Linked DNA regions of Homo sapiens: region 1 is linked to region 2. Evidence: fine-mapped expression QTL. A gene starts in region 2. The other region holds a variant in brackets. All regions are shown on one strand. Distances are between the middles of the regions.

Region 1 (4,311 bases), 27 kb after region 2:
CACAAGTGGCTCCAATTTTGACCTTTTGTTATGTAAATGTGGCCAGCTTGGGAAGGGCCCTGCCCAGGCCTCCTGCTACCACACCCGCAGGCCAAGAATTGTGTGTCTGCCACCAGCGCCCCCTGGCCTAGGTGGCCCCTGGGTGTCCTTAATCTCCTGTGTGTGTTAGAGGGGCAGGCATTGCACCCACCGAACTCCCTAGACCTGTTCGCTGGTCCTTACTCTTCCTGGCTGTCAGATCCAACTACCAGGCTCTGTGGCCACAGTCTCCTGCTGGGCTGCCCCTGGTGCCCCAGCCAGAGACCCCCAGGTGCGTCCCTTCATCGCCCTTCCCTCCCTTCTTCGCTGATGGCTGTCTGGGTGACTGTGTTCGTCTTCTCTTCCCCAGGTGACCAGGCATTGATGCACCCCCAGGAAGGCCACGCGCTCAGGAGCCCCCCCCGCCGCTGGCTGCTGCTCACATGGTGTCTGGGCCCTTGGCACTCCGGTGAGGCGCAGGGGAGGGGGGACCGCCACTGGCCCCTTTCCCCGGAGTTTCTGGGTGGCACACAGCCCCACAGCTCGGCCTCTATCTGTCTGACCCGTGGTCCTTTGTGTGCACACAGCACTGGGCAGTGTGGAGGGAGCCTGGAGGCCACTGCCCTCTTCCAGTCCCCTTGCCAGTCTCGGGGTACCAGGTGTCTGGGTGCTGGCAGAGCCGGCACTGATGTTTTCTGGGGGCTAGGTTACTGGGGCCAAGTGTGGAAGCCACACCTTGGGGGCTCTTTGTCCCTGCCTGGTGGGTTGAGGCGGGCAGGGAGTGGAGGAGGATTGGTTCACGAAGTCTCCAGCCCATGAGCACCCTCCTGAACTGCTGTGGGCTGGGCTGCTAGGCAGAGAGCCGCTGGCGGGTGCTTGCTGCCTCTTGCTGTTAGGCTCTGAGTGCCAGCGGTGTTCCAGGCTGTGTTGCACCCTTGCGTGTTCACATTGAGCTCTGGCACCTTCAGGGGCCTGTGAATGTTAGGGTTTTTCTTTGTCTTTGCAAACAAGGGTAGGCATGAGGCTGGGGAGAGTTTCTGTCATGAGAAGGTTGGGTAGGGTGGGACCCTTTCCAGGCCTCTGCTCTGGGAGGCAGGGCTGGACACTCTGGGAGGGGCAGTAGATCCCAGAGGGCGGTGGGCTCAGAGTAGTTCAGCTGCTGAGAGACTGGACCCTGAACTGCGAGGCTCAGAGCTGCCTGTGGGCCCCGCTGCTCGGTTGTCCGTCAGCCATGAGGAAAGTTCATGTTTTCACTGGCCCCCTGCCCTGTGGAAGCCTGTGAGCCTATCCGGGGCACAGGTGGCCACCTGGACACTGGCATGCCTTCCCCAGCACCCTCCTGCTGAGCCATTCTCTGAGGGACTCTGGTAGGGGTGAGAGGATGGAGCTGGGAGTACTGCGTTTTGTACTGGGGAGTTGGGCTTAGGGCTGAGGATGGCTTTGAGTCATTCAAAGCCTTCCAGAGTCATTCTTTATACCGCCGGCCACAGTCCTTGCCTCCGCCCTTGGAGGGACATTTCCCTCCTCCCCCCGGCGTCTATCTGGTGCCCACTGTGCACCCATTTGCCCTGCCCTTGTACTCCCACTGTGGGGTGCCTGGTCCATGGCAGAGGAGGCTGCTCAGTGGGGATGGGAAGCGTGGCGAGGAGCACCCGCTCAGAACCCCATGTCTTGCTGCTGCATAAGCAGGAACACACCTGGGCCGTCAGAGTTCCTGCAGAGACCAGCGGCGTCAGTGTGCTTCTTGCTTACTGATCTCAGTTAGTGCCTGTGCCATTCTGTGTGATGGAGGCCAGCTGTCCACCTTTCCTAGGCCCAGATGGTGCTGCCCTTCCTAGAGAGGACGGAGGGTTCAGGTGGTGCCAGGTGCTTGGCCTAAGCTACCTTTCCTCCTTGGCAGCTGGAAGCCCAGGCTGGGGCAGCACTTGGCGCCCGCCCAGAGTGCGAGGCAGCCCAGGGCCTTGGGGAGAGGCAGGGCTGGCTGCAGGCTGACTGCAGCATCTGGGAGGCAGCAACATGACTGCTGGCAGTTTGATTTGGGCCCTGCCGTATTTCAAAAGGAACCACCATTTAGTTTTGGGGGATTTTTGCCAGCTTTCAAGACAAGCTCCTCTCACGGAGTCCTCTGCTTCCCGAAGTTTAAAGCCATCTGGTCATTTTTGGGTCCCCTTCTGGTCCCTG[A/AGG]GGGTTGACTTCATTTAGTGTAGAGACAGTAGCCCGGGCTGTGAAACCAAATGCAAATCCCAGTTTCTCTATTTGTCCCCTCATCACCCTCCACCTCCATTTTCTCATTAGTGCAAATGGGGCAGGGGCCTCTGTCCCTTCTCAGTTTGAGTCCTCAGTGAGGTGACACGTGTACTGCGCCTGCATGTGGTGGGCATTGTGGGCTTATGTGCCGTGTACTGTGCCGCAGGGGCTCCTGCCCTATGTGGGGTCAGTTCTGAGGCCCTTTGCCTCGTCGAGCCCCACCCTGCCCCAGAGCCCTGGTCCGAGTGTGCCAGTCATCTGACGCATGCGTGCCTGTTCTTGCCCACAGGTGGTGCGCGTGGGCAGGGCGCGGGGACATGGGGCCCGACATGGAGCTGCCCAGCCACTCGAAGCAGCTCCTGCTGCAGCTGAACCAGCAGAGGACCAAGGGCTTCCTGTGTGACGTCATCATCATGGTGGAGAACTCCATCTTCCGGGCCCACAAGAACGTCCTAGCCGCCAGCAGCATCTATTTCAAGTCCCTGGTCCTGCACGACAACCTCATCAACCTGGACACAGACATGGTCAGCTCCACAGTGTTCCAGCAGATCTTGGACTTCATCTACACAGGCAAGCTGCTGCCCAGCGACCAGCCAGCCGAGCCCAACTTCAGCACCCTCCTCACTGCCGCCAGCTACCTCCAGCTGCCCGAGTTGGCAGCCCTCTGCCGCCGCAAACTCAAGCGAGCCGGCAAGCCCTTTGGCTCTGGGAGGGCGGGGTCCACTGGCATGGGGCGGCCCCCCCGCAGCCAGCGGCTGTCCACGGCCTCTGTCATCCAAGCTCGGTATCAGGGGCTCGTGGATGGGCGCAAGGGGGCCCACGCCCCCCAGGAGCTCCCCCAAGCCAAAGGCTCAGACGATGAACTCTTTCTTGGTGGCTCTAACCAGGATAGCGTGCAAGGTCTGGGCCGGGCTGTCTGCCCAGCTGGCGGGGAGGCGGGTCTGGGGGGCTGCAGCAGCAGCACCAACGGGAGCAGCGGGGGCTGCGAGCAGGAGCTGGGCTTGGACCTGTCCAAGAAAAGCCCACCCTTGCCCCCTGCCACCCCAGGTCCCCACCTCACTCCCGATGACGCAGCCCAGCTGAGCGACAGCCAACATGGCTCGCCCCCTGCGGCCTCTGCTCCTCCCGTTGCCAACAGTGCCTCTTATTCTGAGCTGGGGGGCACCCCTGATGAGCCCATGGATCTGGAGGGGGCCGAGGACAACCACCTGAGCCTGCTGGAGGCGCCTGGTGGGCAGCCTCGGAAGAGCCTCCGGCACTCCACTCGGAAGAAGGAGTGGGGCAAGAAGGAGCCTGTGGCTGGCTCCCCCTTTGAGCGGAGAGAAGCAGGGCCCAAGGGTCCCTGCCCGGGAGAGGAGGGTGAGGGGGTCGGGGACAGGGTTCCCAATGGCATCCTGGCTAGTGGGGCTGGCCCTAGCGGGCCCTATGGGGAGCCCCCCTACCCCTGCAAGGAGGAGGAGGAGAACGGCAAGGATGCAAGTGAAGACAGTGCGCAGAGCGGGAGCGAGGGGGGCAGCGGCCATGCCAGCGCCCACTACATGTACCGGCAGGAGGGCTACGAGACGGTGTCCTACGGGGACAACTTGTATGTGTGCATTCCCTGCGCCAAGGGCTTCCCCAGCTCTGAGCAGCTCAATGCGCACGTGGAGACTCACACGGAGGAAGAGCTGTTCATCAAGGAAGAGGGGGCCTACGAGACAGGCAGTGGGGGTGCCGAGGAGGAGGCCGAGGACCTGTCAGCACCCAGTGCGGCCTACACGGCTGAGCCCCGGCCCTTCAAGTGTTCGGTCTGCGAGAAGACCTACAAGGACCCAGCCACGCTGCGGCAGCACGAGAAGACGCACTGGCTGACACGGCCCTTCCCCTGCAACATCTGTGGCAAAATGTTCACGCAGCGCGGCACCATGACGCGTCACATGCGGAGCCACCTGGGCCTGAAGCCCTTCGCCTGCGATGAGTGTGGCATGCGCTTCACCCGTCAGTACCGCCTCACGGAGCACATGCGTGTGCACTCGGGCGAGAAACCTTACGAGTGCCAGCTGTGCGGGG
Region 2 (4,377 bases):
GTGTTTGAAGGTTATCACTTGAAACTGATTTTTAATTTGTTTAGGAGAAAACCCAGCTTCTTATAGTTTTATTTTATTTATTTATTTATTTTTTTGAGACGGAGTCTCGCTGTCGCCCAGGTTGGAGTGCAGTGGCACGATCTCGGCTCACTGCAGGCTCCGCCCCCCGGGGTTCACGCCATTCTCCTGCCTCAGCCTCCCGAGTAGCTGGGACTACAAGCGCCCGCCACCTCGCCTGGCTAATTTTTTGTATTTTTAGTACAGACGGGGTGTCACCGTGTTAGCCAGGATGGTCTCGATCTCCTGACCTCGTGATCCGCCCGCCTTGGCCTCCCAAAGTGCTGGGATTACAGGCGTGAGCCACCGCGCCCGGCCTATAGTTTTAATTTATATGTCTTGGGTTAGTAGAATGGTTGACTTTTTTTTTCAGTCGTTCCTTCAAATAGTGAGTCCTCTGCTAGGCTCTATTTGTGGAATATTCTTGTTCTTCTTCAGGGATGTTTGATAGCTCTTTTTTTTCCACAGATGTTTGATATTTCCTTTTTCATCTATTGTGTTCTTACCATTTCTAGGATGTTTCTAGGCTTTCTATTCTATTTCCTGTTCTGTACCACACTGAAATGCCTGCGGTAGCTTTACAATTTGTTTTGATATCTGTTAGGGCAAGTCTACCCTCATGCCTGCTTTTGTTCCCAAGGGGGGAAAACCATAGCTGTTTTCGGCTATTTATTTTTCCAGGTGAACTTAGAATTTTGTGAAGTCTAAGAAATGTTGTTAGGATGACATTAAACCTATACATCCATTAGGAAAGAAAGGTTGCATCATCAGCTTGGCGAAGGGTTATTGAAACTGGTTTTTGATCTTGACTGGAGCTGGGGCACAACTTCCCTGTAAGGCAGACCTGGGCTCCTCTTGGACTTGGGCGACCTCGATAGTGGTGTGTTCCTTTGTTTGGTGTTCAAAGTAGAGAGCGGTCCATTAACTAGCTCCCTAGAGAAGCAGTGGCGGCTCAGGCCAGCCCAGCCCCTGGGAAGGCTATCTGCATGGCGGCCGGGAGCCCGGGTCCTGGTGGGCCGGCTCGGGCAGGCGCTTGACCCCTGGGGCCTGCGAGGGGCTGCGGCCACCGGAAGGGGCTGGCTGAGCGCAGCGTGCTGGGTCCTCCGCGCCCTCGGAGCAGGTAGGGTTCGCGGGGGTGCGCCCGCGGGGGCCCGAGGGGCGCTGGGGTCACGGGAGGGGCGCCCCTTCTCTTTTGCACCCAACCAGCCCGGGCTTCCCCAGGAGCCCAGACCCCCGAGCTTGCAGTCACTGCTGGCTGCGCCTTTGAGCCTCGGGCAACCGCAGGGAGCGTCGAGCAGGGGTCGCAAAGGGGTCGGGGAGGGGGCGCGTAGGCCGATAGAGGTCCCTAATTCGGGGCTCCTAGGGGTCAGGGTAGGGCTAAAAGGGGGTAAGTCCACCAGAGTTTGAGGGGGTGGGCGTCAGCCTGTCGGGGGGGGCCAGGGTCCCTGTCCCGGGGGCCGGTATGCGGTCCGGGTATTTCAGGGGCGAGGTCGCGGTCCTGCCCTGGCGCTTGAGGTCGGAGTCCGGTTAGATGTCCGGGGTCTGGGTCCCCGGCTCCTCCCGCGCACCCCTCCCCCACGGCGCCGGACCCCGGCAGCCCGCCCCGCCTAGTGCTGGGACCGCTGTCCGGCCCGGCCCCGCCCCCGCAGGCCCCGCCCCTGTTCACAGGCCACGCCCCCAGCTGCCCCCTGTCCCCGCCCCGCCGCTCGCCCATTCAGATGTGGGTCAGGGGTGAGCGGGCGGCGCCGACGTCACAAGCTTCCAAGATGGCGCTGGGCGGGCGGCTGTGAGCGGCGCTCGGGGCGCGCTAGGCGGGGAGCCGAGCCGGGCTGGCGGCAGGCGGACGGGGCGGGCGCGTGCGGCGCGAGCCGGGCGCTGAGGACAAGGGCCGCTGGTAGGGCCGGCCGGCCGGCGGGCGGAGCGCCGCCGCCGACGCACACGAGGTGAGGGGCGGCCTTGTGGGGCGGGGGGCGCGGGGAGCGGGCGGGGGCCGGGGCCGCGGGCTGGGCGCGTCCCCGGGGAGAGGGGCGTGGACGCGCGCGCGCCCGGGCGACGTGGGACTGCGCGCGTGGGGGACGCGCTAGCGTCTGGCGGGCCTGGGCTGGGGCGCACGCGGGACCCCTGGCAGGCCCGGGCTTTGTGGGCCAGATGCCCGGAGGGGCGCGGGCGGTGGGGCACCCGGGGCACAAAGCCCACCGGGCCGCGCCAGGCCCAGGCGGCGCGGGTCTGCGGAGCGGGGGTCGGCGGGCGAGCGGGCGCCGGCTCTTTGTGCCTTTTCATTAGCAATCTAATCCGAACAGCGTCGGGCGAGCTGCGCTGCCTGACAGGCGGGAGGGCTCCCATTATGCAAACGGCCCTGCGCCCGCGTTCGCCCCCTCGCTAGAGGATTTTGCGATTTCCAGGACTGCGGTCCTGCACCGTCTGCGGTCTCCTCTCCTCTTGCCTCCTCCCCGCGGGAAGACTGGCCACGGCAGGGGCAGGGGCGGGCCTGGAGGGGCCGCTCCCAGAGGGCCGGGCTCTGCGGCTGGTGGGCTCGCTGCCCTGCCCCCAGACCTCTCCTGTAGGCAGCCGCTTGGCAGGAAGAGAGATGGGCTTGGGGGAGGGGGTCGGCTTTCAGGGGGAAGGGACCGGCTGGCTGAGGGAGGGGGCTGAGGGGCCCCAGCTTGTCACTCTCTGTTTATCTTCCAAGATGGTTCATATTCACACAGGCCTGGGTGTGTGCGTGGTTGGGGGGGGTGGGGGGGAATGCCTCTCCCTGGGGGGCAGTGACTTGCTGAGAGGAGGGAATGAGGCCAGATAATGCTCCCAACGGCCCCACCCAGAACTGCCTGGGACTGCCTGTGTAAGGGAGCCCAGTGCTGAGCCGGATGGGTTGGAGCGGTGTTAAAGTTATTTATCCATGTCTTCTCCTGTCCCCCGCACCCCTAGTCTTTTCTAGTAGGAGTTGCCAAGCACATCTGGAAAGCTGTGTTCCCCGACCCCCCACTCCCCCAACAGCAGGAGGGGTGTAACCCAGGGAAGCCACCCCTCTGACATATGTGCTGGGGGGAGGGGCAGAGCCTTGCCCCTAGGAATCCTGTGGCGGTGGGTTGTTGACTGATGTGGGATTGCTGTGTCTCTTGTGCTGTCGGAGAGCTGGCAGGTAGTGGAGGGGCCTTGGGAGCTCCTAGGCTGAACTTGGGGCTGTCCTCCAAGGATCCAGGATGGAGGGATGGAGCTGGGTCACTCAAACCTAAGGCCTTTCTGGGTCTAGCATTTATTGCTTCCTGGCTTCTGGCTTGGCTTCTTTTCGTCCATTCTCATCTGCCAGTGTCTGGACTCCCTGGGCCTTCAGGCAGGCATTTTCAGGAGCACAGGCCATGTGGTTGGTCTGGAGCCCTGTGTCAAGGAGAGTGTGCGTGCTTGGTGGAGCAGGGTTGCTGGAGTAGTGTGAAAAAAAGCAGATGAGCTGGCCTCTGGAGACAAAGCTGTGTGGCAAGACTGCTGGTTTAGTGGGCTCTGAACACCAAGAACAGGGCCGGGAGTCTGATACTTGGGGGCTGAACTGAGTCCTGTGGCGCAGGATTGTTGCCTGGAAGTGAACGTTCCGTCTTGTGCCATTGAGACTGTGAAGATCTCTGGGTCCCACAGGACGAGCAGTAGACTTGGAAGGCTGGGAAGAGGCTCCCCAGCTGCCTGCCTTGGGAGGTCAGAGCTCTCAGGTGGGTCGGCAGGCCAGTGTCGGGCTGGGGGAGGGAGGTTGTAGTAGAGTGCCTGTGGCCCAGCTTCTCTGGTCAGTTGGCTCTGAGTGCTGCTGTGTGCCCAGCAACCTCTCCCTGCGGTGTTTTTCTGCCAGTTGTTGGAACTTGTAGATTAGTCACTGAGTTTTTACGACCGATTCCTGAAAAGAAAAATCTCCCTCTGGTTGCTGCCTCTGTGTAGAGGAAGAAGCAGCCCGAGGGAGTCAGGCCTTTAATTAAAGCAAAACCGAAATGATTGTCGAAGTTGCTGGAAGGAGAAGAGAAGGCGCAGGTGGGGCAGGGGTGATGAGTCCTGTTGTGCTGCATGATACCTGCTCTGGGGACAGGTAGGCACGATCCCATCCTCGATCCTTGGTCTTGGCCAGCAGCCCAGCCTTCTCCACAAGCTGCAGTCGCAGATTAATCCTCACGTAGTGTTTTCTTTCCGTAGATCAGATTTCTCATTTTGTTAATAAGCGCAGCCTCCCATCCACTTGAAGTCAGCTGTTGTGGACGAGGAGCAACAGGGTTTTGCATTATTGAGCTGATAGCCTGCCGCCTCCCCTCAAGTCCTTATTGTTTGCGGGGTCAGATCTGAGGG

Evidence for each region. PIP is the estimated chance that this variant, and not a neighbour inherited with it, causes the effect. A credible set is the group of variants that fine-mapping cannot tell apart.
Region 1: its variant is the best candidate, but not a certain one, in a credible set for the expression of HIC2 in whole blood (TOPMed, PIP 0.61).

Annotation. Positions count from the first base shown.
Region 1 is chr22:21,442,371-21,446,681 of GRCh38, forward strand. It overlaps HIC2 (HIC ZBTB transcriptional repressor 2), which reads left to right. Exons shown (of 3, transcript NM_015094.3): 2 at 389-487; 3 at 2,552-4,311. The coding sequence starts at 462. Among named protein-coding and RNA genes, the nearest start is that of TMEM191C, 23 kb to the right of the region's middle. The variant A/AGG (reference allele first, on the strand shown) is at 2,200.
Region 2 is chr22:21,415,561-21,419,937 of GRCh38, forward strand. It overlaps HIC2 (HIC ZBTB transcriptional repressor 2), which reads left to right and starts at 1,811. Exons shown (of 3, transcript NM_015094.3): 1 at 1,811-2,000.